Homo sapiens: one gene and its partners. The protein of the gene in region 4 interacts with the protein of the main gene of each other region in a biochemical or structural test. Each region holds a gene or a part of one and is shown on either strand. Other genes may lie near its edges. The genes, in order: NEDD4, UBE3C, ARIH2 and UBE2L3.

What was found.
Region 1: the proteins of UBE2L3 (region 4) and NEDD4 form a complex in vitro, tested with the Homo sapiens proteins (19 studies listed by BioGRID, with this or other methods).
Region 2: the proteins of UBE2L3 (region 4) and UBE3C form a complex in vitro, tested with the Homo sapiens proteins (6 studies listed by BioGRID, with this or other methods).
Region 3: the proteins of UBE2L3 (region 4) and ARIH2 form a complex in vitro, tested with the Homo sapiens proteins (8 studies listed by BioGRID, with this or other methods).

Annotation. Positions count from the first base shown.
Region 1 is NC_000015.10:55,825,917-55,830,372, reverse strand, and holds the end of NEDD4 (E3 ubiquitin-protein ligase NEDD4), read left to right. Parts: intron 1-373; coding exon 374-476; 3' UTR 477-3,451; downstream 3,452-4,456. UniProt on the Homo sapiens protein: E3 ubiquitin-protein ligase which accepts ubiquitin from an E2 ubiquitin-conjugating enzyme in the form of a thioester and then directly transfers the ubiquitin to targeted substrates. Specifically ubiquitinates 'Lys-63' in target proteins.
Region 2 is NC_000007.14:157,260,039-157,268,303, forward strand, and holds part of UBE3C (ubiquitin-protein ligase E3C), read left to right. Parts: intron 1-7,546; coding exon 7,547-7,717; 3' UTR 7,718-8,265. UniProt on the Homo sapiens protein: E3 ubiquitin-protein ligase that specifically catalyzes 'Lys-29'- and 'Lys-48'-linked polyubiquitin chains.
Region 3 is NC_000003.12:48,976,929-48,985,193, forward strand, and holds part of ARIH2 (E3 ubiquitin-protein ligase ARIH2), read left to right. Parts: intron 1-2,553; coding exon 2,554-2,705; intron 2,706-3,424; coding exon 3,425-3,568; intron 3,569-4,705; coding exon of another isoform or gene 4,706-4,731; coding exon 4,732-4,800; intron 4,801-5,967; coding exon 5,968-6,051; intron 6,052-6,270; coding exon 6,271-6,342; 3' UTR 6,343-8,265.
Region 4 is NC_000022.11:21,562,924-21,571,360, forward strand, and holds the start of UBE2L3 (ubiquitin-conjugating enzyme E2 L3), read left to right. Parts: upstream 1-4,790; 5' UTR 4,791-4,821; coding exon 4,822-4,848; exon of another isoform or gene 4,849-5,454; intron 5,455-8,437. UniProt on the Homo sapiens protein: Ubiquitin-conjugating enzyme E2 that specifically acts with HECT-type and RBR family E3 ubiquitin-protein ligases.

The DNA of each region.
Region 1 (4,456 bases), on a different chromosome or scaffold from region 4:
CAACGAACAGGTGTTTTGTTACCAAGTTGGCCCAAGCTTGAAGTCCAGGTAGCTGAAGATCAGAGAGACCCACCTAAACTGAGTGATGAGTGATGGGCTGTCCCAAGACAGGCTAGAACATTCCATCTTGGAGGCTGAAGTGGCAGAGAACTCAGACATTTGGAAGATGTGGTGGGGGCAGCACTCCACAAGGAGTTGTGCAGAGTATCCATGCCCAGAACCCAGTCCTACGTCTTACTTCTACCCCTGGTGAAAAGACATATTTTGGTGGTGTTGGAACATTCTCATCAAGAATAGCAGCATTGCTCTGTTTGCTGTGGTGGTACTTGCTTTGTCAGTGTCTTTCATAACCACTTCCTCTCTGTTCTTTCAGTTTTAATCGCCTGGACTTGCCACCTTATGAATCATTTGAAGAATTATGGGATAAACTTCAGATGGCAATTGAAAACACCCAGGGCTTTGATGGAGTTGATTAGATTACAAATAACAATCTGTAGTGTTTTTACTGCCATAGTTTTATAACCAAAATCTTGACTTAAAATTTTCCGGGGAACTACTAAAATGTGGCCACTGAGTCTTCCCAGATCTTGAAGAAAATCATATAAAAAGCATTTGAAGAAATAGTACGACAACTTATTTTTAATCACTTTTAAATAATGTGTTGCATTTACACAGTTGTTTCATGCTGTCTTTAGAGTTAGGTGCCTGCCTAAAGCCAGGCACCACCACACCTGGCTTTAGAGTTCACACAATAGGATATAAGTCCTGTATGACTTAAATAGTGAATTTTGTCCTTAACATTTACCTCTTGTATAGTATCTGCCAGGCAGTTTTTTCTTAAACTACTGAGATGATAACTGTGAAATATTTGTGATACGTGTCATGTGTGAAAAGTTTGATGCATTTTGAGATGGAAAACTGAAATTTGGAAAAAGAAATACTTTACTATTGAGTAAACTACAATATATTTAGTGCTACTCGCAGCTATTTATTATTTTGTAGACCTGCCTTATGCACCTTACTGCCTAGATTTTTGGGAAAAAACTTTGGAAAGTGTGTTACCTATATTTCTAGCCAACTAACTCACAGAAAAACTGTTTACTTCTTCACTTTCGAAGTATTTGGCTTTTGTTAATATGCAGTTTTACTAAACAGATGGTTCATAAGACATGTGAAGCAAATTCATATTTGCAATGGGTAAAAAGTATTAAAGCCTTTCTCTTGCCTGCATATCCTATTGACCATTGGTATAGTCATCACTTTTTCATATTTTAGTGTAGTTAGAAGAATTCCTTCTTCAAACATTAAAGATCCACAAAGCAGTATTTCTAAATATGCCTTGAAGAACTAAATGAAGTGTATAGCACTTGCCTTTACTAGATATTCTTTACACTTGTACAATTATGTAGTAAATGTATGTTTACAGGGTTTATCATGTTTACAGATTAAGCTAATTTCTGTAGTCGCATTTTTATATTTTTAGTATCACTCTAGTAAAAAAACCAAATAATTTGTTTAAAATAACCAAAGAGTTGTTATAATGCATAATTTGTATTAAATTTATTACTATTTCTTATGCCTTTTAAAATACTGTTTACTATGAAGACAATGTTTTTAATTACAAATCCAGAATTCTGTAGGCAAAATGCTACAGTTCATATCTTCCTTTAACCAAACTGAAGTACATAAAGACCATGTACATGTATTCATCAAACGTTTATTGAATGCTGCGTGCCTAGCGCTGTGCTATGCTCTGGGGTAAGAGTTGTCAGCTTCAGAGAAGCTGAGTCCTGATCCTCAAGGAACTTGCAAATGTGTCTATGAATTTGTAAAACAATCAAAAGTAGGCGTAAGCAGAATAAGGCAAAAGGGAAAGTGTTCTAGGTTCCAGCACACCTGCAAAGATAAAGTGTGCCAAGACTGTATTTATATTTCATACTTATATTGTTTCATCCTTATATTGGAATGATTATATAGAAAATGCTCTTAAAAAGATTAAACCTATTTCTCAGTATGGTATCTTGGTGATTTAGGAATAATTGTAAATATATGTTACGAATCTTCTTAAATATATATATATACACACCCTGTGAGAACTGTAAAAAGTACCTCTGGTTCTTGGTTTAAGTTTGTTGGGGTATAACATGATGAGTACTCATTAGCACCTGATAGAAATCTGAAATGTGACAGTAGCAAAACCACTTTCTACTTTCCAAACACCACAGCATCAGCATGGTTTAGGGGAAGCAATTCACAGATTAATGTACCCTGCGTTTTGTCTTCACCATTGTCAACCAGCAGTCAAGGATGAGCACCAGGTATAGTCCTGGTTTGATATCTCACCAGCCATGTGAACTGAAGCAGCTTACTTAACCTCTCTGGATTCATATTTCTTCATCTGTCAAATGAGAGTAATCATGCCCACCCTCATTGTCATGCCAGATTGTCAGAAGTTCCAGACAGATGAGAAAGCAAAAAGTACTTTGTAAAGTGTTATACAATCAGAAGGTGCTTTGTGCTGACCGTCAGATTGTGTCAAGTCAGGTGTGCAAATTGACCACACTCCCAAAGAATCATTTAAAAGTAAAGTGACTTCTAAGAGACAAGGAAGTAGGAACATTTCTGATATTAAATATATAAATAATATGGATACACATGTGTATATCTGTATATGGATCTTACCATCATAATTCATTTTCTTCATATCAGCAAAGTAATAGTAATGTGGGCCAATGCATTTTGGAAATGTCCTCATTATGTAGAATGGAATGTGAAAATTATTTTTGTTAAAACAGGATTTTGCCACAATTATTTAAATATTATGTTTGTGAACTATCTAAGCATGAGAAAATACAAAGCTTTCTTTGTATCTGGCTGATACTCATTTGGATGATTCTGTGACTCATAGAACATGATGTTAAATGAGACCAGACTCAACTGCCACCAGTCCCCAGCTGCAGACCTTCATCCCCTTCATCTCCCACTAGGGGCTCGTGGTCTGGAAGAAACATCTATCAAGCAACACAGCCCCTTATCCCAGATAGAAAAGTGTCTCAAATGCATTCTACTGCGGGACAGTCAGTAGGATCATTTTCATAAAGCAAGGACATCATATGTTTCTAGAAATTACAAGCATATAACTTTAGCCTACAATCTCTTATTAAAAATTTTTAACAAAATTGTATTACAAATGCATTTCATCAGAACTCAAATTTAAATGGTGTTTGTTTTGGGTTTTTATTTATAATGCTGAAGTTATTCCATATAAGTATCAAGTTAAACACAATTCATTTTGATTATAAACTATTTGACTTTTTAAAATCTTCTGACACAGTAAATATATATATCAAGATTGATGTATCAAAATTTATTGCACACTTTAAAGTGTAAAATCATTTTTTAAAATCTTGAATCCACAAATAAAGTTCTATTCTGATTTTAAAAAACAAAACAAAACTGTGGTTCATTATAAAATAGGAGTGTTTCCAAGTCAGTATGCTGGGTGATGTCTTCTGGTCTAGTTCCTCACAGCAGCACGTTAAATTTTCAGTGCAATCCTAAACTTATTACCTGATGAACTAACATGATTATAAACTCTCAACCACAGATAATTAATTTCCACTTTACAAAAAGGTCGTATTGCATAAGTCTGGTTGTTAGTGAAATAGCCAGAAGATAAAAATAATAGCTAAAAATGGACTGGATTTCAGGCACCTTGCTGCTCATCAAAGAAGCCATTCTTGTAGCCAACCACTATTTACAACATCATTTCTATGAGAAAAAGAGTTCGGAGTGTTAATTCAGAACGAAGTGTCTTTTCCTCCTTCCTCTCAGGCATGAGAATTAGTTTCCCAGTTAGAAGGGAATCCACTCCCACCCACTCAAGCCAGCCTGGGAAGGTGCTGTTCCAGCCCCCTGTTTCTGCCATAATCCAGGCCATAGCTTTTAATTTTGGGGACCTAGGCCATGGCCCTCTGCTTCCACGTTTCCTGTTCTAGCCAACTCGGGCAGCAGCTAGCCCACAGCATGCCCCACCTGTACAAGAAGTCCTTGCTTTGCTGTCCATCACGGCAGACATTTATTTTATAAATGATATTAAACTAAGGTATTAGAATGTCAGTACCTCATTATGAAGAAAGAGACTTAGTAGATTTTTGTCTTTTTCCTTGAAAGTTAAAGCCTATCACACTAGCCTCCTCTTTCTGTTCCGCTCATCTCTTCCCCTGCAATGCATCCTATGCAGTCCCTCCATCACAATCAGTGTTTCCTTTTTAGCACACAGATTTGATCAGGTTACTGTACCGCCAAAAAACCTGAGAGCTCCCCAGAGCCAAAAGCATGAAGCACAAACCCGTTAGCATGGAGGTTCGCATGGAATGCAGTCCATCCTCAGCCTAAGGTCTCAATTCCACCTTCCATCATACCTCACTCAGGTGCCCTTGGTTCCCCTCCAAAT
Region 2 (8,265 bases), on a different chromosome or scaffold from region 4:
CGTATAAACTTAAACGTGTTAGTGAATACCATCACTCAATGATATCAGTAGAAATGATAATCTTCCAAATTGTTGGAGAGAAAAAATAACCATGCAAATAAAACAGGACAAACAGAACCAACTCTGTTTACCAGATATGGGGGGTGGGGGTGGGAAGTAACATTCAGAATCGTAAAATAGAAAACATAGAATGAGAGAAGCCTGAATGTTACAACAGTGAGTGCGGAGAAACTGACGTAATGAAAGAAAAAGACTTTGAGACAGGGCCAGGAAAACGCTGCCGCCTACAAGCAACACACCTAAACGGAGTGACCCAGAAGGGTTTAGTGGCACGTCCAGGTTCGTGTGTGAAGAAATAGATGGGTCCCCTTCAGAGTTTGAAGCATGACCCATGTGACCAGATAGGAGAATCTCTCGAGCGCAGGGAAAGCTGGGTGCTGCCTGTGTGGTGGCAGAGTCTGGAGGGCTTGCTGTGCTGGGGACTAAAGAGCAGGAGGACTGCAGGTGAGGCGTGCAGACGACTTTTTATCGGTAAAGATTTTAATGCCATTTGGTAATTTTGTCATTAACATTTATTATGATAGACAAGGCTTCTAGTATCTTTGTTTCAAAACTGGTTTGTTCCAAAGCTAGAGATAAGAAAATTATGCATCTCATCTAGTTTCATAAAAGGAAGTTTGGAGGACCTGCTCCCATCAAAACACTGGAAGATGCAGAGACTTTTGTCAGCTCCTGGCTAATTAGATAATGCTAATCATGTGAGTAGCAATAAAAATTCGAAGTCCTGCCAGACGTAGGTTCTAGACATTCTGACAGCCAACTAAAGAGCCAGCAATAACGTGTGCCTAGGAGTGCGAGAGCCTTCTCCACCTCCGTGATGCCTCCGGGTTCGTGCATGGCCACTTGTGCTGCGTGAGCGTCGTAGGTTTAGGGGAACAGAAGTAGAGGGATTTACATGAGCTTTTAAAATCCCAAATAGACTGGCCAGGTGCGGTGGCTCACACCTGTAATCCCAGCACTTTGGGAGGCCAAGGCGGGTGGATCCCCTGAGGCCAGGAGTTCAAGACGAACCTGACCAACATGATGAAACCCCGCCTCTACTAAATACAAAAAAAAAATCAGCCGGGCATGGTGGTGCATGCCTGTAGTCCCAGCTACTTGGGAGGCTGAGGCAGGAGAATGGCTTGAACCCGGAAGGTGGAGGTTGCAGTGAACCAAGATTGCACCATTGCACTCCAGCCTGGGCAACAAGAGCAAAACTCTGTCTGAAAAAAAAAAAAAAAAAAAAAAAAAAAAAAAAATCCCAAATAGACTAAAAGGGAAAATCCTACCCCAGTCAAGACCCCGCACAATCATAATTGAGTTATACCGTGGAAAACACTTTGAGCATCCATGAGACGGTCTTACTGTTTTTTTTATTTTTCTCAATGTTCTAACATATGTGAAATTTAATTGATTTTTCCATGATAAGTGTTTTTGAAGTTGTTATATGTTAGACATCCAGTTTGGAAAAATCATCTTAATATTTAGGCTTTCCGGTTAGCTTAGTATGCCTGGATTTGCCAGGGCTGCAGAATTAATGTAGACTTAAAGGAAGAGAATGTCTTTCAGTTGAAGTACTATAAATAGCAAAGGCAGGCAGGCATAATTTTAAAGTTATGAAACTCCTTAGTGCCAGATTATTGGAGAAGAATAACATCTGCTAAAGCTAATTAAAGTTTAATATGTTTAATAAATGTGATTGTTACAGACAAAAAATCATTAAAGTGCTGTAGAAAATTGTTAAGTTACCATCAGGCCACATAATAAATTAATGATTTTTCTCACTCTGAATTAATGCAAATTCCCGTTGTACTGTATTTAATTATGCACAAAATGGTGCCCTTGACTCAGATTTCAGTGAAGAACTTCATTTTTTTACTTTTAAGTCTCCAAGTAGGAAATTCAATTAGCGTTATGAAAGAAACACTAAAATGTGGCATTTAATTGCAAAATATATTTTAAGCTTTTCATTTATCCAGTGACTTTGCCAGCAGTCACTGACCCCTTCATTCAGAGATCCTTTTCTGTTTCAAAAATGCAATGCTTCCTTTTTAGTATATTCAAGCATTTGTGAAAATTATTGCCCTCATGTACTCAGAATGCTGAATAATAAGTGTAATAAATGTTATTTCTGGTTCTCCTTTGGTTCTCATTCTAACATTTTTATGAGAGATTTAAAGGAGCAAATAAACTATAATTAGAAAAAAAAAGACAATGGATTTTAGCACATATTATATGCCACATATATATTTTTTAATGAAGTTTACATTTAACAGTAAAGAGACCTACAAAGATCAGTAATAAGAATCATGTAAGTCTCTTCATAGGCTTTTTTTTTTTTTTTTTTTTTTTTTTTGAGATAGAGTTTCGCTCCTGTTGCCCAGGCTGGAGTACAATGGCCCATCTCAGCTCGCTGCAACCTCTGCCTCCTGGGTTCAAGTGATTCTCCTGCCGCAGCCTCCCGAGTAGGTGGGATTACAGGCACCTACCACCACCCCCAGCTAATTTTTTTGCATTTTTAGTAGAGGCAGGATTTCACCATGTTGGCCAGGCTGGTCTCGAACTCCTGACCTCCGGTGATCCACCCACCTCAGCCTCCCAAAGTGCTGGGATTACAGGCATGAGCCACCGCGCCCATCCTCTTCATAGCATTTTGTGGGCTGTGCTCTTACTAGTTTTACCCTTAACATAAATTATATGCTAAACTCAACATATAATTGAAACAAAATCCAACTGAAATGTGGGTGTGGCCAGTTGGGTGCCTGTTGTGCTTTGTGACAGCTTCAGTGCTTCCAAAGGTTCCTGCAGAATGGGACATTGCTCTAGTTTGATTCACATTTGACTACAATGGTTAGAAGGTAATTACCTTTTCTATTTTTTAAATTTTTTTGAACATAAACTCAAGATTGTATTGTCTTCATAATAAAACAAAAGATGACACTTAGAATTGGATGTCTTGGCCCTTCCTCCTCTTCTGTCCTCCCAGTTCAGAATGCTCACATCTCTTTATATCCAGCATCCTCTTACATCTGCACCTATGCTCAACGCACTCAAGCCTCAGCACAAGCTTCTTCGTAGTTCTAGCCTTTTCCCGGAAAATCAGCTTAGTCTGCCCACCGTAGCCGCTATGCTTCGTGTCCTAACACCACCTTCCCCGGGCACCTGTCCTAACGCCACCTTCCCAGGCACCTGTCGTAACGCCACCTTCCCCGGGCGCCTGTCCTAACGCCACCTTCCCGGGCATACAGAGAATCCGTGCCCTTTTGTGCCGTGTCGCTTTGTGGGCTTGCCACACTTACAGAAAGTCGAACGGGGGCCGGGTGTGGTGGCTCACGCACTTTGGGAGGCTGAGGCGGGCGGATCACCTGAGTTCAGGAGTTCTCGACCAGCCTGGCCAACATGGCGAAACCCCATCTCTACTAAAAATACAAAAATTAGCTAGGTGTGATGATGGGCACATATAGTCCCAGCTACTCGGGAGGTTGAGGCAAGAGAATTGCTTGAACCTGGGAGGCAGAGGTTGCAGTGAGCCGAGATTGTGCCATTGTACACCAGCCTTGTTGAGAGAGCAAGACGCCAACTCAAAAAAAAAAAAAAAAGTCTAGCAAGTATTAGGAACATTCACTTTGTGGGAGCGCTGTTGGCACCGAAAGCACTTTTTTTATATTGGATTTTTTTTTTTTTTTTTTACCTTTCAGTAAAAGTAATGTTTTCATTATAGAAAATTGGAAATTGTGATCAAGTATAAGAAACCTATATTTCCTCCCATTCTAACCATTATTTTTTTATGTTTCCTTCCTTTAATTAGTATGTGTTTTATCTACCTACATGAGTGTGTGTTAATGTAGATATGCATAATTTTTTCTGTTTTTGGTAGAGGTAGGGTCTTGCTCTGTTGCCCAGGCTGTCAGAAACTCCTGGCCTTGAGTGATCTCCCACACCAGCCTCCCAAAGCACTGGTACTACAGGTGTGAGCCAACATGCTCGGCCTGTTACACACACACACACCTGGTATTACAGGTGTGAGCCAACATGCTCAGCCTGTTACGTGCACACACACACACCTGGTATTACAGGTGTGAGCCAACATGTTCGGCCTGTTAAGCACAGAGACACACACCTGGTATTACAGGGGTGCGCCAACATGCTCGGCCTGTTACACACACACACACACACACCTGGTACTACAGGTGTAAGCCAACATGCTTGGCCTGTTACACACACACACACACACACACCTGGTATTACAGGTGTGAGCCAACATGCTCGGCCTGTTACACACACACACCTGGTACTACAGGTGTGAGTCAACATGCTCGGCCTGTTACACACACACACACACACCTGGTACTACAGGTGTGAGCCAACATGCTCGGCCTGTTACACACACACACACACCTGGTACTACAGGTGTGCGCCAACATGCTCGGCCTGTTACACACACACACACACACCTGGTATTACAGGTGTGAGCCAACATGCTCAGCCTGTTACACACACACAAACATATATATTTTTAAGACAGAGTTTCACTCTTATTGCCCAGGCTGGAGTGCAATGCGTGATCTCGTCTCACTGCAGCCTGCAACCTCTGCCTCCTGCCTCAGCCTCCCGAGTAATTGGAATTATTACAGGCATGCACCACTACAGCCGGCTAATTTTTTATTTTTAGTAGAGATGGGGTTTCGCCATGTTGGTCAGGCTGGTCTCAGAAATCCTGACCTCAGGTGATCCACCCGTTGTGGCCTCCCAAAATGCTGGGATTACAGTCATGAGCCACTGCTCCTGGTCACGTAATTTTTAAATATAATTTTAGCTGTATCTTGTGTTCAGTTTTCTAGGCTACCTTTTTCACTCAACATTACATCAGGATCATTTTTCCTCATGTTATTCTTTGAGATATTTTTAATGGGCTTGTAGTGTCCCATCATGTGATTTACCAGTTTACTTTCTGTTTTTTAGTTGTTTACAGCTCTTCCTTCGTTGTGATGCTGTGAACCTCTTGTGCATAAATTATCATGTGCATCTCTAATTATTTCTTAGAGTACAGTCCCAGGAGTTGTGAATGTGGGTGAAGCCCCTGCTCCTGCTGCCAGGCCCACCTCTCAGAGAGTTTCGTGTACACGTGTGCAGGGAAGGGCTGACCTAGCTAGGTCTCTGAAACCCGTGCCAGATACTAAATCTGCACAGGCTGCGACAGTGAGCAGACTGAGGGCGATCTGTGCCTTATTGTCTTCCTGTTGGAAGAGAACACATAAATCACGTATCTCAAATGTGAGGCAAATAGCTAATGGTGTTTGTGTATACGAGGAAGGTGGAGTCACCGGTTCTTCGTGGCCATCAGAGGACCGACACGCCCATAGGTCTCATGCATTAAGTCTGCGTTGAGCAATCCCTAACACGGTTTTTGCCTACAGATACATTTGCACAACTGTGAAAACCAGGTACGTATTCATTGCATCATTTTTTGTAAAAAGCTGAGAGAAGTGCCCAGCAACACGTCGTGCCGCGCGTGTGCATGGAACACCATATAGCCTCACCATTAATAGGCAAGATGAGCGAGACCCATTATCAGATGAGAAAAGCACGGCACGGAATACTGTGTCCAATGTGCTCACCGTCTCAATTTTAAACCTAAAGGAGGGAGAACATTTTCTCATGCGTGCATTTCATCTCTGGGAGCACTTAAGACGCTGAAGCGTTGGTTGCCAGTGGGAATGGGAACTGGGTATCTGTGATACAGGGATGAGAATTTTCACACTGTACCTTTAAATACCAGAACGTCATGAACACATCTGAAAAACAATATTCAAATTTCCCTGATCATCTTTCTTTTTTGTTAACAATTATTTAAATTCTGGCACAAGCAAGCCACTTTTCATCATGCATTTGGTCTATAGATGTTCTACCTCCCTCAATTTCGTCTTGTAATTTAATGAATAGGGGAACTGGGGCCGGGCACGGTGGCTCACGCCTGTAATCCCAGCACTTTGGGAGGCTGAGGCGGGTGGATCACGAGGTCAGGAGATCGAGATCATCCTGGCTAACATGGTGAAACCCCGTCTCTACTAAAAATACAAAAAATTAGCCGGGCGTGGTGGCGGGAGCCTGTAGTCCAAGCTATGCGGGAGGCTGAGGCAGGAGAATGGCGTGAACCCGGGAGGCGGATGTTGCAGTAAGCCGAGATTGCACCACTGCACTCCAGCCTGGGTGACAGAGCAAGACTCCGTCTCAAAAAAATAAATAAATAAAAATAATAGGGTAACTGGGTTGCTTCTTTGTATCTCTTGAAAACTGATAGAGGTCTCATCAGATTCTAAATTTGAATTTTTCTTTTTTTGGCAATAACATCACATAGGTAATGTCGTATGCTTCCCATTCCCTTAATCATCGTGGAGATCCACTTCTCGTGAGTCATCTCCCCACAATGCTGGGATCGATCTCTGCGTCAGAATTCCTCTTGATTTTAGTGGTCACTTATCACTGCCTAGATCCATTGTTTAATGTGCTTCTAAAACAGCCGTGTTCTAATTACATAATTGTATAATTTATTAGCTGGAATTTTCTATTTAAAAACAGCTTTGTTTCTTCTCACCAATGATTTGGTTAACCCGAGTAATAGCTTGTACAGGAAAGATAGAATAAATCTTGATCCTTTTTAAAAAATTTTTATAGACAGGGTCTCACTGTGTGTTGCCCAGGCTGGAGTGCAGTGGTGTGATCATACCTCACTAACCTCGACCTCCTGGGCTCAAGACATCTTTTCACCTCAGCCTCCCAAGTAGCTGGGAGTATAGGGGCAGACCACCACACCTGGCTAATTGTTTTGATTTTTATTTTTAGTGGAAATGAGGTCTCGTTATGTTGCCCAGGCTGGTCTCGAACTCCTAAGCTCAAGCCATCCCCCAGCTAGGCCTCCCAAAGTGCTGGGACTACAGGTGTGAGCTATGCGCCTGGCCTGGAATGTTATTTATCCCTTTTTATGCCTGAAGCACAGTGCATAATCTTTTATGTAAGTTAGAACTAAGCCATCAATGTAATTTTTTAAAAAAGCAAATGTGGGCCAGGCACGGTGGCTCACGCCTGTAATCCCAGCACTTTGGGAGGCAGAGGTGGGCAGATCACAAAGTCAGGAGTTCAAGACCATCCTGGCCAACGTGGTGAAACCCCTTATCTAGGAAAAATCCAAAAATTAGCCAGGCATGGTGGCAGGCACCTGTAATCCCAGCTACTTGGGAGACTGAGGCAGGAGAATCGCTTGAACCTGGGAGGCAGAGGTTGCAGTGAGCTGAGATGGCGCCATTGCCCTCCAGCCTGGGCGACAGAGCTAGACTCCATCTCAAAGAAAACAAACAACAACAACAAAGCAAATGTGGTTTCGGGAAAATGTGACTGCAATGGTAACTTTACTGATTGGAGCAGGCACATTTTGTGTACTTTGTATTAAAACTCATGTAATGCCATGCTTGTTACAGTGACATCTTGCACACATGCTGTTTTTCAGGAGTTGTATCCCGCATTTTGTATTCACAACGGAGGCTCCGACCTTGAGCGGCTCCCCACAGCCAGCACCTGCATGAACCTGCTGAAGCTCCCCGAGTTCTATGACGAGACACTTTTGCGAAGTAAACTTCTCTATGCGATTGAATGTGCCGCTGGCTTTGAGCTGAGCTGAAGCTGATGCTGGGGTCAGACCCCTACAGAGAACCAGTGCTTCCTTCGTCAGCAGCGCCTCCCCAGACCCACGAGGATACTCACACTGCACGCCTGAGGCTCTCCTAAGCTCCTTCTTTCATTCTGCCATTCCTCCCTCCCTTCCTTTTTTAAATGATTTTTATTACGGTGTGGTCACTTATTTAGATGGACATTGCTTTTCAAATAACTTAAAATAACACGTTATGTGCCATGTGGCTACTTTAGTAATATTGCCAAGAAGAGCACAGTTTTTACACTAGTGGCATCTCAGTGAAATTAACCAAAGATGAAGCTTTGGCTTTGCTGGTGAGATCAGAGCCCTCCTGAGCAGGCAGCGCCACTCCAGGGTTCAGACAGGGCTGCACAGGCGGCAGAGATACAGGGTCTGAGGGCTGAGACGCCATGGGGCCGCTGCTGCTTATGTGGTTGGATTGTTTACAAGCCTCATTATTAAAACTGAAGGCATTTTTTTTTTCTGCTGCCTTTCCCAAAGTGGTTAGGTTTGGAAAAGAGATGATGATGGTAATA
Region 3 (8,265 bases), on a different chromosome or scaffold from region 4:
GGTGGCTCACGCCTGTAATCCCAGCACTTTGGGAGGCCGAGGTGGGCGGATCATGAGGTCAGGAGATCGAGACCATCCTGGCTAACATGGTGAAACCCCATCTCTACTAAAAAAAAATACAAAATTAGCCAGGCGCAATGGCGCACTCCTGTAGTCCCAGCTATTCGGGAGGCTGAGGCAGGAGAATCGCTTGAACCAGGGAGGTGTAGGTTGCAGTGAGCCAGGATCGCACCACTGCACTCCAGCCTGGGCAACAGAGTGAGACTCCGTCTCAAAAACAAACAAACAAACAAAAAACTGCCATCTCTTTCTTTGCTGTATGTTTTATACCACCTATATGGGCAACCGTAGGGAATGTGGTTTTTTGTTTTGTTTTGTTTCGTTTTTTGAGATGGAGTCTCACTCTGTCACCCAGGCTGACAGGCTGAGTGCAGTGGTGCGATCTCGGCTCACTGCAACCTCCACCTCCCAGGTTCAAGCAATTATCCTTGCTCGGCCTCCTGAGTAGCTGGAACTGCAGGCACATGCCACCATACCCAGCTAATTTTTGACAGAGTCTCACTCTGTCGCCTGGGCTAGAGTGCAGTGGTGCGATCTCGGCTCACTGCAACCTCCGCCTCCTGGGTTCAAGCGATTCTCCTGCCTCAGCCTCCCAAGTAGCTGAGATTACAGGCGTCCGCCACTATACCCAGCTAATTTTTTGTATTTTTGGTAGAGACGGGGTTTCACCTTGTTGGCCATGCTGGTTGTGAACTCCTGATCTCATGATTAGCCCACCTTGGCCTCCCAAAGTGCTTGGATTACAGGCGTGAGGCACCGTGCCCGGCCTGTATTGTTCTTTAAAATGGTAGCAAGCACACCTAGCTAATTAAGGAGAGGGCATTGTTGCCACTATTAGGTGAAGGCTCCCAGGAGGAGAAAAATTGAACAACCTCTGGGTCTCCGGGTTTTGCTTTGGCTTCCCTAAAATGATTCAAGAGCCTCATTTTTGGGGAAGTCAGTAAGCCAAGTTATCCCTGGAGAGTGAATCCTGGGAAACAGGATTTACCATTGTCAGGGTCTGGAAGAGGCAGAATAGGCCAGATATAAAATCTAATAAGGTATTATTAGAACAATGTGTGTTCTAGACAACCAGGAGGACTTCAGACAAGTTTTGCTTCTCATAGCAGCCTTGACACAGATATAACAAGGCACATAGCCCATGTGCTCATGGAATGCAGAATATCAACAGGCCATTGTTCATCCAACAAAACTGTGGTTGGCTTCTCTCCATTAGACTGCAGTAATTCTTTGAGCATCTAACAATAATTTTTTGAACATATAGGGGATTTTTTTTTTTTTTTTTGAGACACAGTCTCGCTCTGTCACCTAGGCTGGAGTGCAGTGGTGTAATCTCGGCTCACAACCTCCGCCCTACAGGTTCAACCAGTTCTCGTGCTTCAGCCTCCCAAGTAGCTACTGGCATGTGCCACCACACCTGGCTAATTTGTGTATGTGTGTGTGTGTGTGTGTGTGTGTGTGTGTGTGTGTGTGTGTGTATATATATATATATATATTTTTTTTTTTTTTGGTAGAGACGGGTGTTTCACCATGTTGGCCAGGCTGGTCTCAAATTCCTGACCTCAGGTGATCCATCCGCCTTGGCCTCCCAGAGTGCTGGTATTACAGGTGTGAGCTACCGCAAAAGCAGAATCATAATTCTGATTATGAACCATTGGATAGCTCTAGGTTTTATAGAAATGTGTTATTTGCCAGGCGCAGTGGCTCACGCCTATAATCCCAGCACTTTGAGAGGCAGAGATGGGCGAATCACTGAACACTGGGGGTTCTCGAGACCAGCCTGGCCAACATGGTGAAACCCCATCTCTACTAAAAATACAAAAATTAGCCAGCATGTTGGCAGGCACCTGTAGTCCCAGCTACTCGGGAGGCTGAGGCAAGAGAATCGCTTGAACCTGGGATGCAGAGGTTGCAGTAAGCCAAGATCGCGCCACTGCACTCCAGCCTGGGTGACAGAGTGAGACTCTGTCTCAAAAAAAAAAAGAAAAAGAAAAATAAGAAATGTGTTTTTTAAAATAGAAGAAAAAGGGGGAAAGCCTTTATTCTTAGTTTCATATACAAAAATCTTTCTAGGACAAGTGTGAGGGTAGGAAGCAGTAGGGAGGTCAGTTTGTACTGATGATGTGCGTTTAAGACAGTCAGGTCGGCCTCAGTTGGACTAGTTCCTCCTTCTTATAGTGGCATTGACATAGCAGACCAGTAGTCTGTATGGTCAGCATCTGCCTGTGTTAGATTAATAAGGCGCATGGCACATGTGCTCATGGAATAGAAATTATCCATAGGCTTTTGTTCCTATCAGCAAGTACAGGCTACAAGGACAGTAGGATGTGACAGGGATGAGAGGTGCACATTCCTTCGGGAAAGAGGCACCCTTGGGAAGTTGTGTTCAGGTGACCCCTTTGGGAGCAGGGTCTGTCTGTCTCACTCCTCTGCCTATGGAGGAAAGTGGAGTTGTCTTGTAGATGTAAATGACTCTTCCTCTGTTCTGCACAGACTTCTGCTGGATGTGTCTAGGAGATTGGAAGACTCATGGCAGTGAATACTATGAGTGCAGTCGTTACAAGGAGAATCCTGACATCGTGAACCAGAGCCAACAAGCCCAGGCGAGGGAAGCCCTCAAGAAGTACTTATTCTACTTTGAGAGGGTAGGTGTCCTCTCCTGTACCTTCCCCTACAGGGTAGGCTTCTTCCACTTGGCCTGCTGGTGGGATTCCCAGGGACTGGTAGACAGAGCTAGCCTGTGCACATAGAAGTCAGTGAATGGAGCTCCTGCAGTATCCCTGGTGCTGCCTCTATAGATGTGCCTTTCAAGCTCTATAGGGTATATCCCCAGCCAACAGGGAAGGACCTGGTACTGACCTTGGTTGAATGATGGATTGAAGGACAATGAAGGGCCATCAGACAGTCTTTTCCATCTAGTACCATCTTTTTTTTTTTTTCTTTTTTCTACGTTTTTAATTTTTATTTATTTTTTTCTTTCTGTCCTCACAATCTGTTCCCATAGTATCATCTTAGTAGTCAGATTTGGAAGGCAGTTTCTCCCAGGGAGCCCTTTAGAAGCCCAAAGAGCCCCATGCATAATGGTCTCTAAGCATAGTAGACCATCAGGGGCCTAGCTTTGCAGAGTCCTCAGGGCTCGAGTCCTGTTGCCCCAGAAGGGTAGAGCGATCTGGCAGTAAGCATACAGCTGCTCTGGACAGGTTAGAAGGATGGACTGAAGAAGACCTGCTCTTGCACTTTGGGGAATAAGTTAGAGGAGTCTGTGGCCATGTCCTGCCAGCAAGGTGTCTATCCTGAACTCCTGTGTAGACCTCTGCACCTTCATGGGACTCCTGTGGTTTTCTTCTTCTTCTGTGCCCTGTAGTGGGAAAACCACAATAAAAGCTTGCAGCTAGAGGCACAGACATACCAGCGGATTCACGAGAAGATTCAGGAGAGGGTCATGAACAATCTGGGGACATGGATCGACTGGCAGTACCTACAGAATGCTGCCAAGCTCTTGGCCAAGGTATCTACCACTTCACTCATCTTATCCCTGGTCCAGTGCCTGGCTCCGTCAGGCACAGACCTCTGATAGTGGGAAGCTCTGTTGAAAGAGGGTATTTTAGCACCCTGTGCAGCCTTTCATGCTTCTGCTTGTGGATCCACATTTTCATGTGCTGTGCCCATTAAGGACCCAGTCCTCTGATGGATGTCCAGGGGATTTATAAGAGTGTTGCACTGCCTCTGCCTGCAGGGAAAACTAGAGCACTTTTCTTCTCCTTTTGTCCTGTTTATGTATCACTCAAAGGAAAATAAAAGATTGTCTGATCACTTGAGGTCAGGAGTTTGAGACCAGCCTGGCCAACATGGTGAAATCCTGTCTCTAATAAAAATACAAAAATTAGCTGGGCATGGTGGTGCATGCCTGTAGTTCCAGCTACTTGGGAGGCTGAGGCACGAGAATTGCTTGAACCTGGGAGTCAGAGGCTGCAGTGAGCCGAGATCACACCATTGCACTCCAGCCTGGGTGACAAAGCAAGACTGTCAAAAAAAAAAAAAAAAAAAAAAAAAAGATTGGGCAGGGTGCAGTGTCTCACGCCTATGATCCCAGCACTTCGGAAGGCCAAGGCAGGTGCATTGCTTGAGCCCAGGAGTTTGAGACCAGCCTGGGCAACATGAGAAAACCCCGTCTCTACAAAAAAAATACAAACGTTCGCCTGGTGTGGTGATGCACACCTGTAGTCCTGGCTACTTGGAAGGCTGAGGTGGGAGGATCGCTTGAGTCTGGGAGGCAGAGTTTGCAGTGAGTGGGGATTGCACCACTGCACTCCAGCCTGGGCAACAGAACAAAACCTTGTTTCAAAAAAAAAAAAAAGGTTGTCTTTGGCTAAGCATTGAGATAGATGTGTTGACTCTGATGTCCTACTCAAGAGGGAAAATCCATTGAGGCAGCTGCTGATAATCAGTTTGTAAAAGAAACTGTGGGTGTTCTGTGACCATCGTTGTTTGTTTTTTCCCTCATGTCTTTTCCCAATTCATCCTCTATTTGGCCTAGTATCATTTCTTTCAGGCCTATATCTATAGAGCTGGGCTAATTTGCATGTTGAGGGTAGGAATTGTAAGAGCCACCTGAGATGCAGGTAGCTTAGAATCACAGACACAGGTTCCTTCTCTTCTCTCCTGTTGCAGTGTCGATACACCCTGCAATACACCTACCCATATGCATATTACATGGAGTCCGGACCCAGGAAGAAGCTGGTAAGGCAAAGCAATTTTTCTACTCTGTCCCGTTAGCCTCAAAGGTGCCCTTCTCTACCAGCACTTTGCAGGAGAGTGAGGACCAGACCTTGGTCATTGGGAGGGCAAAGTTAAAACAAAACTCTAATTGCAAAATTCCACTTCTGCTCTGGGCACCTCCAAAATAGATCTCAGGTGCTATTATTTTGTGTCATATAAGGCACATGCACCTAATCCTCTGAACAACTGTATTTAAAGGGCGATTGGCTAAAAAGGTCTGTGGCCAGTGGGAGGCCAGTAGTGCCCATGCTTGGGAGGGATATTTAGCATGCATGTCCTTAAGATATATTTGACTGTTTTATACCTTGTTTAATTCTTCATCTTAGAGTTGAATTTGAATATGAATTTATTGTTATTACCAATAGTGTTAATAAACTAGTAATTAACATTTTTGTTTAAATGCTGGAAAACAGAAAAGCATTTACATTGTCCAGAGAGAAATTACCACTGTCAGCATTTTCCAGCCTTTTAAAATTAACATTGTGTATATATAATCAAGGTTATATATAACATTTTATTGTTATAACAGTTTATTGTTATAGCTGTTATGATTTACCTGCCTGGTAAATACCATTTTGTTAATGGTTGCATAAATGTGTCATTACATGATTGTACCATCACTTGGGACATTTATTCTTTCTTTCTTTCACTGCTATAAATAGGACATTGAGGAATATTTTTGTGCATAAAGCTGTATATCTTCTTAGATGTATGATTACTAAGTATTTAAGTTTGAATATTTTTAAGGCTCTTGATTTGCTGGAGGACTGAAAAAAATGAAGTGATAGTGTCTGAGAATATTCATTTGACTTATTTTTTACAGCATCCATTCCCTTTCATGTTGGGAGTGTTCTCTTTAGTGGCTTAAATTCTTTGCCTGCCTTTGGGAGTGTGGAGGGTGGAGTGGACCTTTTGAGGGTCGAGGGTGAATGTGGCCTTGCTGTTTGGATAGCCTTTTGTTTGGATTCTGGCTCTGGGCACAGGGAATAACACTACTTTCTGAGGACAGTATCAGGATTGTCTGTAGTTCCTGTGAGCCTGAGGTGCTGCATGTGCCCACCCCCGTGTACAGGCCCTGCCCCAGCCACAGCCCACTCACCTTTTGACCCTCCTGCTCTGCCTATACAGTTTGAATACCAGCAGGCTCAGCTGGAGGCTGAGATCGAAAACCTCTCATGGAAAGTGGAGCGTGCAGACAGCTATGACAGAGGGGTAAGTGCCTACTGTCCTCTTGGATTCTATATTGCAGGTAGAGGACTGGCATGGTAATAGGTGACAGCGTTGTTGGCTTGTGCACTGGTAGCTGCTGCTAAGAATGGGAAGGGCAGTGTTTTTGACTCCTTGGAGGTCCTGGAGGGTGTTTGTGGCTTTGGCTACTCCTTGCTCCCAGGCCTGGGCCATGCAAGCACACACCTTGTTTCTCTGATGCAGGACTTGGAGAACCAGATGCATATAGCGGAGCAGCGGAGGAGAACCCTGCTGAAAGATTTCCATGACACCTAAGTTGGGATGTGGATGTGCCGGGGTGAGGAAGATGTGGCTGCAAGGTCTCCCGGCTGCCATACTGCATGCTGCAGGCTCTGCCTTTCATGACCCCAGGCAACAGCCAGGGCCCCACTCCTGAGAGACACTGGCAACACCTCTTAGTTGATTTCTGTTTTCTTCTCTTTTCACTTTTTGTTTCTACCAGGGTAGAGGCCATGTTGAACTGGCCTCTTTTCAGGACTTTTATTTCCCCCTGGATGGTTGTTGGGAGGGAGGGAAAGTGTTTTCTGAATGGCTATTAATAGTATTAGATCATTACAACTTATGTAACTTTCAAAGGTTGTACAATTATACAAAAAAAAAAAAAAGGCAAACTATAGGATAACACAGAGCCCTTTTTGAAAATAAATTGGCATTGGAGTGTTTTACCCTCTAGCTGTTTTACTTAGAATGTAACATATGCTGCCTACCCACCTCAAAATGTCTGTACTGCAAGAGGGCCCTGGGCCTCTGCTTTCCATATTCACGTTTGGCCAGAGTTGTAGTCCCAAAGAAGAGCATGGGTGGCAGATGGTAGGGAATTGAACTGGCCTGTGCAATGGGCATGGAGCACAAGGGGTCACAGCATGCCTCCTGCCTTACCGTGGCAGTACGGAGACAGTCCAGAACATGGTCTTCTTGCCACGGGGTGTTGTTGTCTCTGGTGGTGCTGCATGTCTGTGGCTCACCTTTATTCTTGAAACTGAGGTTTACCTGGATCTGGCTACTGAGGCTAGAGCCCACAGCAGAATGGGGTTGGGCCTGTGGCCCCCCAAACTAGGGGGTGTGGGTTCATCACAGTGTTGCCTTTTGTCTCCTAAAGATAGGGATCTACTTTTGAAGGGAATTGTTCCTCCCAAATAAATTTGCTTTACCTTGGTCCTTTCTTTTGTGCCAGTATTCAAGTGGTATAGCTCTGAGCAGGGTCACATTTGGCCAAACCTGACACTGTCTTGCTGCATTCTCCTTTGGCAAACATCAGGGTCAGAATTCAGGATAGCCCTTCCTAGGGCACTGGACTTTCTGGCATGGGGGCTGTGTTTGCACAAGTTATTTTCATGTTACCTGGAGAGTGTCCAGAGGCTGCTCTGAGGCTGAGGTGTGTTCCCCCTTGCCTGGTTCCAGCTGTCAGAGGGATACCATCCTAGGGTCTGGGAATCCAAGGCCACGAGACTCCTTGGTTTGTGGTCCGAGATCCTGTACTAAGGAGGGTCTGGCCAGAGGAACAGACCAGCTTTTGCACAATGAAGCGCAAGGGAACAAGTGGTTTGCCTGGTGTCCTACCTGTCCTGAACCTGGTCCTGTGGGCCATTGAAAAGTTAGATCTGTGATCTCTGGGGTTTTTGTGGCTTTGTTCAATGCTTCCACTCTAGGGCAGGCAGAGCAGTCTATACTCTCCCAAGCCTGCTTGACCTCCAAGTAGAGCTGATACAGAGATCTGTGAATATTGTGATAGAAATTCTTTGGTATTCATACATTTCAGCTGCAAGTCAGCAATTTCCCAGGTACCATGTAAGCTATAAAACAGTCATTCTTAAAGACAGAGGATAGCTGTGACTCATGGGATCATGAGGTCCATGGCTGGTTGCAGGTTCCCTTTTTCCTTCCTCAGGTTTTGTCTCTTCCTGTGTTGTCCCCAGCAAGGGAGAGACTGTGGGGTGGATTGGGAGAACAGATTAGGAGTATAGCAAATGAACCCAGAATGGAACAGTGGGGAGCTAACTGTGAATGAGGAGAGTACCTGCTGCAGGACCTGGAGGTCAGGTGTGAATGCTGTATTGGCACAGGGAATAAATATCCTGGCGTCTGGAGCCTTCACCTCTCCGTCAAGTCCTTCCTGTGATACTGCCATGGCACAGGATCTGAGTTGCAGCTCTGCACCCTAAATCACACCCTGGGCAT
Region 4 (8,437 bases):
AGGAGAAGGAAGAAGCCACTTCTTTTCAAAAAATTTATTGCCAGGCATGGCGGCTCACGCCTGTAATCCCAGCACTTTGGGAGGCCGAAATGGGCGGATCAGGAGGTCGGAAGTTCGAGATCAGCCTGACCAACATGGTGAAACCCCGTCTCTACTAAAAATGCAAAAATTAGCTGGGCATAGAGGTGTGCACATGTAATCCCAGCTACTCGGGAGGCTGGGGCAGGAAAATCGCTCGAACCCAGGAGGCGGAGGTTGCAGTGAGCCGAGATTGCGCCACTGCACTCCAGCCTGGGCGACAGGGCAAGACTCCGTCTCAAAAAAAAAAAAAAAAAAATTTATTACTGGCCGGGTGTGGTGGCTCACGCCTATAATCCCAGCACTTTGGGAGGCCAAGTCGGGCAGATCACGAGCTCAGGAGATCGAGAGCATCCTGCCTAACACAGTGAAACCCCATCTCTACTGAAAATACCAAAAAAAAAAAAAAAATTAGCCAGGCGTGGTGGCGGGCTCCCGTAGTCCCAGCCACTCAGGAGGCTGAGGCGGGAGAATGGCGTGAACCCGGGAGGCGGAGGTTGCAGTGAGCCGAGATCGCGCCACAGCACTCCAGCCTGGGCGAAGAGCGAGACTCCGTCTCAAAAAAAAAAAATTAATACTTTTTTTTTTTTTTTGAGACGGACTCTCACTCTGTCACCCAGGTTGGAGTGCAATGGTGTGATCTCGGCTCACTGCAACCTCCCCCTCCCGGGTTCGAGCGATTCTCCCGCCTCAGCCTCCCAAGTAGCTGGGACTATAGGCACCCTCCACCACACCCAGCTAATTTTTGTATTTTTAGTAGAGACGGCATTTCACTATGTTGGCCAGGCTGGTCTCGAACTCCTGACCTTGTGATCCGCCTGCCTCAGCTTCCCAAAGTGCTGGGATTACAGGTGTGAGCCACTGCACCTGGACTATTTATTTTTGTAGATATGGTAGTCTTTCTATGTTGCCCAGGCCGGTCTTGAACTCCGGGCCTCAAGTAATTCTCCCGCTTCAGCCTCCTAAAGTGCTGGGATTATAGGTGTGAGACTGTACGCAGCCAAAAAAGTCTACTTCTTTTTCTTTTCTTTCTTTCTTTTTTTTTTTTTTTTGAGACATGGTCTCACTCTTTCACACAGGCTTGAGTGCAGTGGCACGATCACGGCTCACTGTAGTGTCACTCTCCCGGGCCCAAGTGATCCTCTCACTTCAGCCTCCCAAGTAGCTAGAATTACTTGGCCATCACACCTGGCTAATTCTTTTTTTATTTTTTGTTGAGACGGGGTCTCCCTATGTTGCCCAGGATGGTCTCAAACTCTTTGGCTCAAGCAATCCTCCTGCCTTGGCCTCCCCAAGTGCTAGGATTACAGGCATGAGTCACCACAAGGTTACTTCTGATGGGAGGCTTGGGCAGATGGCACAGAAAGGATAGGTCTGTATGAACAAGGTTTGGCTGAGTGGAGGGGATCGGGTATGACTAGAAGCCAGGCCTGCTAGAGGGAGCAATGAAGGTTTTAGAGCAGGAGAGGGACCCCAAAGGCCAGGCAGCCCTTCCACTGGGACTGGGTACATTTCCTGAGTGCTTGTTTAGTAAAAGCACTTTGTAGCTCAGCGGCTTGACTCCCCACCTGCAAAGTGCAAGGGAGTCATCTTGCAGGCAGCGGTGAGGATGTAAGAAGATGCCATGGCAAAGGCTAGTCCTTGACATTGAGCCTCTGATGATCCCACTCTGTATTCTCAGCTTAGCACATCCGGGTCAAAGGTATGAACTGTGCTTCCTCAACTGGCTTGGAATTTCTCAGCGTAAGCGTCCCCTTCCTCCGTAATTCTCCACAGAGGAAAGCAGTTCCCAATACAGCTATGTTTTTTATTTGTCCTGGGCCCAGTAAGGGCAGGTTCTGTGCTCACAGTAGACCCCAGAGTCAGTCCCAGACTTCTAAGTCCCACCATGACCCTAGAGATCTGATGGGGTCCCTCATGCATACGCTGAATGTGTATTGAACACTCAGTGTACTGGCCTTGGGGGAGGTAAAAGGCAGGCAGAATCGCTGATCACATGAGGCTTGTCATCTAGTTTCTCCCTCCTTTACCGTGTCAAGCCTGGGCTCCCAAGATGAGTGTGAGGCCAGCCTTATTCCAGGATATATATATCTATATATATATATTTTTGAGACTGAGTCTTGCTGTGTTACCCAGGCTGGAGTGCTGTGGAGCTATCTCCACTCACGGCAAGCTCCGCCTCCCGGGTTCACGCCATTCTCCTGCCTCAGCCTCCCGAGTAGCTGGGAATACAGGCGCCCGCCACCACGCCCGGCTAATTTTTTGTATTTTTAGTAGAGATGGGGTTTCACCGTGTTAGCCAGGATGGTCTCAATCTCCTGACCTCGTGATCCACCCACCTCGGCTTCCCAAAGTGCTGGGATTACAGGTGTGAACCACCACACCCGGCCCCAGGATATATTATTTCCAGTTCCCTTTCCTTCTCTCCTTTCAGGAGAAACCCACTGTTCTTAGAAATGGAGAAAAATGTCCAGGCCCAGTGACTCACACCTATAATCCCAGCACTTTGGGAGGCCAAGGTGGGTGGATCACTTGAGGTCAGGAGTTCAAGACCATCCTGGCCAAAAATGCTAAAACCCTGTCTCTACTAAAAATACAAAAATTAGCTGGGCATGGTGGCAGGTGCCTGTAATCTATGCTACTCAGGAGGCTGAGGCAGGAGAATCACTTGAACCCGGGAGGCAGAGGTTACAGTGAGCTGAGATCATGCCATTTTGCACTCCACCCTGGGTGACAGAGTGAAACTGTGTCTCAAAAAAAAAAAAAAAAAAAAAAAAAAAAAAGAGAAAAACTCCTTAAGAAGGTCTGAGTATATTCTGAAGCTATGTTCTTCTCTCTGCATTGCTACCTGAGGTCCAAACCACTGTCACCTCTTTGCCTGAATGATTGCAACCGGTTTCCAAGTGGCCCCTGCTCCCCTTCTTATCCTCTTACCCACCTCCATTCCCCATTTTCCAATCAGAGTACTCCTTTTTTTTTTTTTTTTTTTAAGATGGAGTCTCACTCTGTCGCCCAGGCTGGAGTGCAGTGGCGCGGACTTGGCTCACTGCAACCTCTGCCTCCCAGGTTCAAGCGATTCTCCTGCCTCAGCATCCAGAGTAGCTGGGATTACGTTCGCCCACCACCACACCTGGCTAATTTTTGTATTTTTAGTAGAGACGGAGTTTCACCATGTTGGTCAGGGTGGTCTCAAACTCCTGACCTCAAGTGATCCACCCCCCTCAGCCTCCCAAAGTGCTGGGATTACAGGCATCAGCCACTGTGCCAAGCCCCAAAGTACTCTTTAAAACATGCGTCTCAGCCCAGGTGTGGTGGCTCATGCCTGTAATCCCACCACTTTGGGAGGTTGCGGCGGGAGGACTGCTTGAGCTCAGGAGTTTGAGACCAGCCTGGGCAAGACAGTGAGACTTCATTTCTACAAAAAATAAAAAAAAACTTAGGAGGGTGTGGTGGAACGTGCCTGTAGTCCCAGTTAATTGGGAGGCGAAGCAGGAGGATCCCTTGAGCCTAGGAGGTCGAGGCGGCAGTGAGCTGTTATCGTGCCACTGTACTCCAGCCTGGGTGACAGATCAAGACTCTGTCTCAAAAAAAAAAAAAATCATCTGACCATGGAGTCAATACTCATATCTATCAAAGACCTCTCACAGCACATGGAATAGAAACCAACTCCTCCCCTTTCTACAAGACCCTCCATGGTCTGTCCCCTGCCTCCCTCCCACCCTATAATCCTTTTACTCCATTCTGGACACTGAGACAGCCTCATGGTCTTCGCCAGTGCTGCTTCCTCTGCTTGAAACATTCTCCTCCAGTCCTCCCAGCTGTTCCTTCCCATTTTCCAGGTCCCAGCATTGGCTTTGGAGCCAGCAGCCCACCTGTGACAGGAGCCTGGCTCTGCTCCTAGCTGGCCGTGTGACCTTGGGCAAGTCACTGGCTTCTTCTGTGCTTCTGTTTATTGTGAAATGAGGATGTTAATGCTAACGTATCCCAGAGGATGGTTTCAAGGGTTAAAGAAAATAAAGCACTAGAGAGAGGTCTGGCACTTAGTAGGGCCATTTCCTCAATTTGGCTTCCTTGACCTCTCAAAGTATGTCCCCACAGTCACTTTCCTATCACCCAGTTTTCTTCACAGAGCTTGGCAGTGTGAAGTAACCTTGGTTATTCAACTTTTTTTTTTTCCCCCAAGACGGAGTCTTCCTCTGTCACCCAGGCTGGAGTGTAGTGGCAAGATCTCGGCTCACTGCAACCTCTGCCTCCCGGGTTCAAGCGATTCTCCTGCCTCAGCCTCCTGAGTAGCAGAGATTACAGGCGCCCGCCACCACGCCTGGCTAATTTTTTGTATTTTTAGTAGAGACCGAGTTTCACCACGTTGGCCAGGCTGGTCTCGAACTCGTGACCGCGTGATCCACCCGCCTCGGTCTCCCAAAGTGCTGGGATTACAGGCGTGAGCCCCCGCGCCTGGTCAACTATTTTATGCAATCAGTATTTATTATGCTCCTACTATGTGCCAGGCACTGGTTGTAACTGCCATCTGATTGGACGATCCGTAAACGCTGAGGCCCAGTCTGTGCGGTTCACTTGCGTTCCTCCACGCGCCCCCCAGCACAGTGGGAAGCACACAGTAGGTGCTCCGCTCTGCTCCTGTGCCCCGCCCCGCGGCCCCTCCCCCGCTCCAGGAAGTGCGGGGGCTCCAGCCGCCCGGCCGGCCGCGATGCATTCTGGGGAAGGAGCAGCACCAAATCCAAGATGGCGGCCAGCAGGAGGCTGATGAAGGTAAAAGCCATTCTCTGGCAGCGGCCGGGCGTGGGGCGGCGTCCTAGGCTCCGGATCCCCGAGGCAGGCGGCGGCTTCTCAGGGCGCTGCCGTCTGGCTTCCTGCCCTACACGGCCTCGTCGGTTCCCTGGGCCGCGCGCAGGCTCAAGGTGCTAACGGGGCTGGCCTAGGCCGCAGCCTGGGCGGGAGCGCAAGGCCGCGCTGGGAGCCGCTGTCGGCCCCTCAGCCCGGCCCGGGGCGTTCACGCCACTCTCCGCCCGGAGCTTGGCCGCGTCCCCCTGTCGCGGAGGCCGCGGTCCGATCTGAGGGCGTCGTTAATGTGAGAGCCCGGTTGGGAGGCTCCAAACCGGGCGCCTTCGGGGAAGGCCCGAGCGCCGGAGCCCCTGCCCGGAGCCCGCGCCGCGGAACCGCCCCGCCCTGGGCCGCAGCGCGCCGGGCTTGCAGCTCCGCTTGGCCCGGCCGCAGCTCGGGAGTCTGGGAGGTTCGGGCTAGGAAAGAGAGAAGGAGGCCAGGCGGCCAAAGTTAGGTCAGTTTGTTGGTGGGTCGTTTGGAATTGCGCTGGGTCCTAGCAAACTGTCGCCTTGTGACTGCAGAGTCACACAGCGGGTAAGTTCCAACTCCAGGAAGGCCTGAGGTCGGCCCCGATCGCGGCGCGGTTCTGCTTCCCTCTCCTCCACTCAGTCATCCCGATCTCCCCTCCCTGATAAAGTGCCATTTTTGGGGGGATAACGGTTGATTTCAGTCGTTCGAATCAAAACGGGCCAAAGTTTATAATAATAATTTGGTACTTTGGATCTTGAATGCAGCAGGGTGCTTTCTCGCTAATTGGCACCTTTTGGTGAGGAACACATGCTAAATTGGCTTAGTACTTTTGCCAGTGGATTTGCCAAGGTCCTCTGTAGCCCACCCCGCCAGCATCTGTGAGTCGGCGGCTGGGTAGTGCTGCCGGCCTGCAACGGGCCGGAAATTAAAAAAAGGCCCAGGAGCCAGTTTCCTGAGGGGAGATAAAGAGCTGGGGTTCGTTCTAGGCGGAGCAGTGCTTGGTAGAGCTAGACATTGAACTTGGAGCCACAGTCTCTGAGCATTCCCTCCGTCCCTGGGAACGTTTCCTTTCTTTTGTTCCCTAAGGGCTAGAGAGGACATTAACTTTATAAAACTGGAGTGGAAGTGGGCACAAAAGAACAGTCAGAGGACTTCAGACCTCTCCTCATCTCTTAAGCTAGTGACACCACCATTCACCAGATAAGGGGTCGGTTAATGGCTTTCTTTCCTACCCTACTCCCAGGTGCAGTCGTCCATTAACCCTTGTGGATTTAAATTTAGAAAGATTTCTGGAGTGCAGGCCGGGCGCGATGGCTCACGCCTGTAATCCCAGCACTCCTGGGAGGCCGAGGCGGGCGGATCACTTGAGGTCAGGAGTTCAAGACCAGCCTGGCCAACATGGTGAAACCCTGTCTCTACTAAAAATATAAAAATTAGCTGGGCGTGGTTGCATTTGCCTGTAATCTCAGCTACCCGGGAGGCTGAGGTGGAAGAGTCGCTTGAACCCGGCAGGTGGAGGTTGCAGTGAGCCAAGTTTGCACCACTGCACTCCAGCCAGGGCGACAGAGTGAGACTCCATGTCAAAAAAAAAAAAAAAAAAAAGATTTCTGGAGTGCATGCCTTGCTTTCTAATGTTACTGAAATTACTCTGAATCTATATCCTCATCTCTCAGGTGCCCTCCCAAGTGCTCTCCTCCCCAGACTACCCCTGACGGACACCAGAGTTCTTTTAAAGCAGATAACTCAATTCTTTCACTCCTGTTAAAAACCTCTATGGTGTTATTGTCCTCAGCAGTTAATCCTAACCTCTTACTTGGCATGCAGGACCTTTCTGAGACTGGCTGAAAGCAATCCCTTGAGCCTCACCTCCTGCCCTTTGGTTTCCCACAGTTCTTGCACCTAATCACAGTAGCTACTATTTTTCCAGCTTTTACTTCGTGCTTTATATGCATGATCATGTTTAATCCTTCCTGTGAAGTAGACATTGTGATTTCCATTTTGTCGATGAGAAAAGATTCTTTGGCTTGCCCAGGGTTACCTAGCTAGGGAGAGTGAGTTGTGATCGAATTCGGTTCTTTCTCCAAAGCAAAGTCTCCTGCTCTTACTTGCTGTCTGATGTCCCTTTGCACGTGTTGTTTGCTCTACCCAAGAAAAGCTGCCTTCTCCTCACTTCTCCCTTCCAGAGAAGTCCCAGGTTCAACTCCAGTGCCAACTACTCTGTGAGCCCGTGCTCCCACATCCCCCTTCAGAATGTGTTGTTTCCTCCTTTGTGTGACCACAGCGCTTTCTTTATATTTCTCTTTGAGCACTTGTCACAATCTCTTTGTGTTACAGACTTGTCTTTCCTGTACTGGGTTCTGAGATCCCGAAGGGCAGGGATCTTGACCTAATTCATCCTGGTAGCCCCCTAGCCTATCCCAGTTGACCCAGTTTGGAATCTCCAGGCTCTCAGGGGTCTAAGAGGGGACTTATTATGGTTTTAAAATTATTACTCTGTTTCTAAAAAAAAACAGACCTTGGAAAAAAATTGTAACATTAACTGAGTATTTATTAAGTATTAGGTTATTTACGTAAGTCATCTTTTCAACACTCAAAGTTAGTGTATTGTCATTTGTATTTTTTATAAATGAGGACATTGTGAGGTTAAGTAGGTTAAGGGAGTTACCTAAGGTAGAATTGTGGAACGTGGTGGGGAGAGAGAAGACGCTGACTCTTCCTGGCTCCAGGATCCAAATTCCATGCCTCTTGTCAGGCTGTCTTTCTTACTCAAAGGCTGCATGGAGCGGTGTGTTGTTTCTTAAGTTGAGGATGGAAAGGCTTTCAGTTCACTAGGGGAACACCAGTTATGTAATGCTGATCATTGGCTGTGAGAATCAATGTTTAAGACTGTTTTTTTTTTCTTTTAAAGGAAGAAAAATTATTGATACAAGTTGATAAACAGTCTTTTCAGTACATAGGGTGGTAATAAAGTGATTTTCGTTGGTGAAAAGTTGGGGCTTAGTGCATGGAACAGTGCCTTAGGCATAGCAATCTAGCAAATGTTGAATGATCAAATTAATTACATCTTAAAGAACTTTAGATTTCTGTTAAAAATGTTTTCTAGGACATTCCACAGCAAAGATTTCTTTGTAACAATGGACTGTCTGCAGATAGTGTAAAACACATTATTAAAAGTAGAGTGATTTACATATACTACACTGAGAAGTTATTTTAGGCAAAGTGAGTATGATAAAGTCTTTTATTTCAAAAGCACTTGCCAGGAGGCTTAACCTCTTTTAGAAGCCTTTTTAGGAATTACAGTGTTAATAAAACATTAAGTACATTTTAATTTGCAAGCAGCTAATTTAGCATTGTTGGCTACAACCAGATTGTAACCATTGCTTCAATCAGGATGGGGAAATTGCTGCAAAAGCCAAAAGTGAAACCTTTATGTGTGGCTTAGGCAACTGATTGCCATCTGATCATTTCTTTGCAGCTTCACACTGCACACATTTCCCCTAAGGGCCCTCCTGTTGAGTAGCTTCCCAGAAGGGCTTTTCTCAGAGGG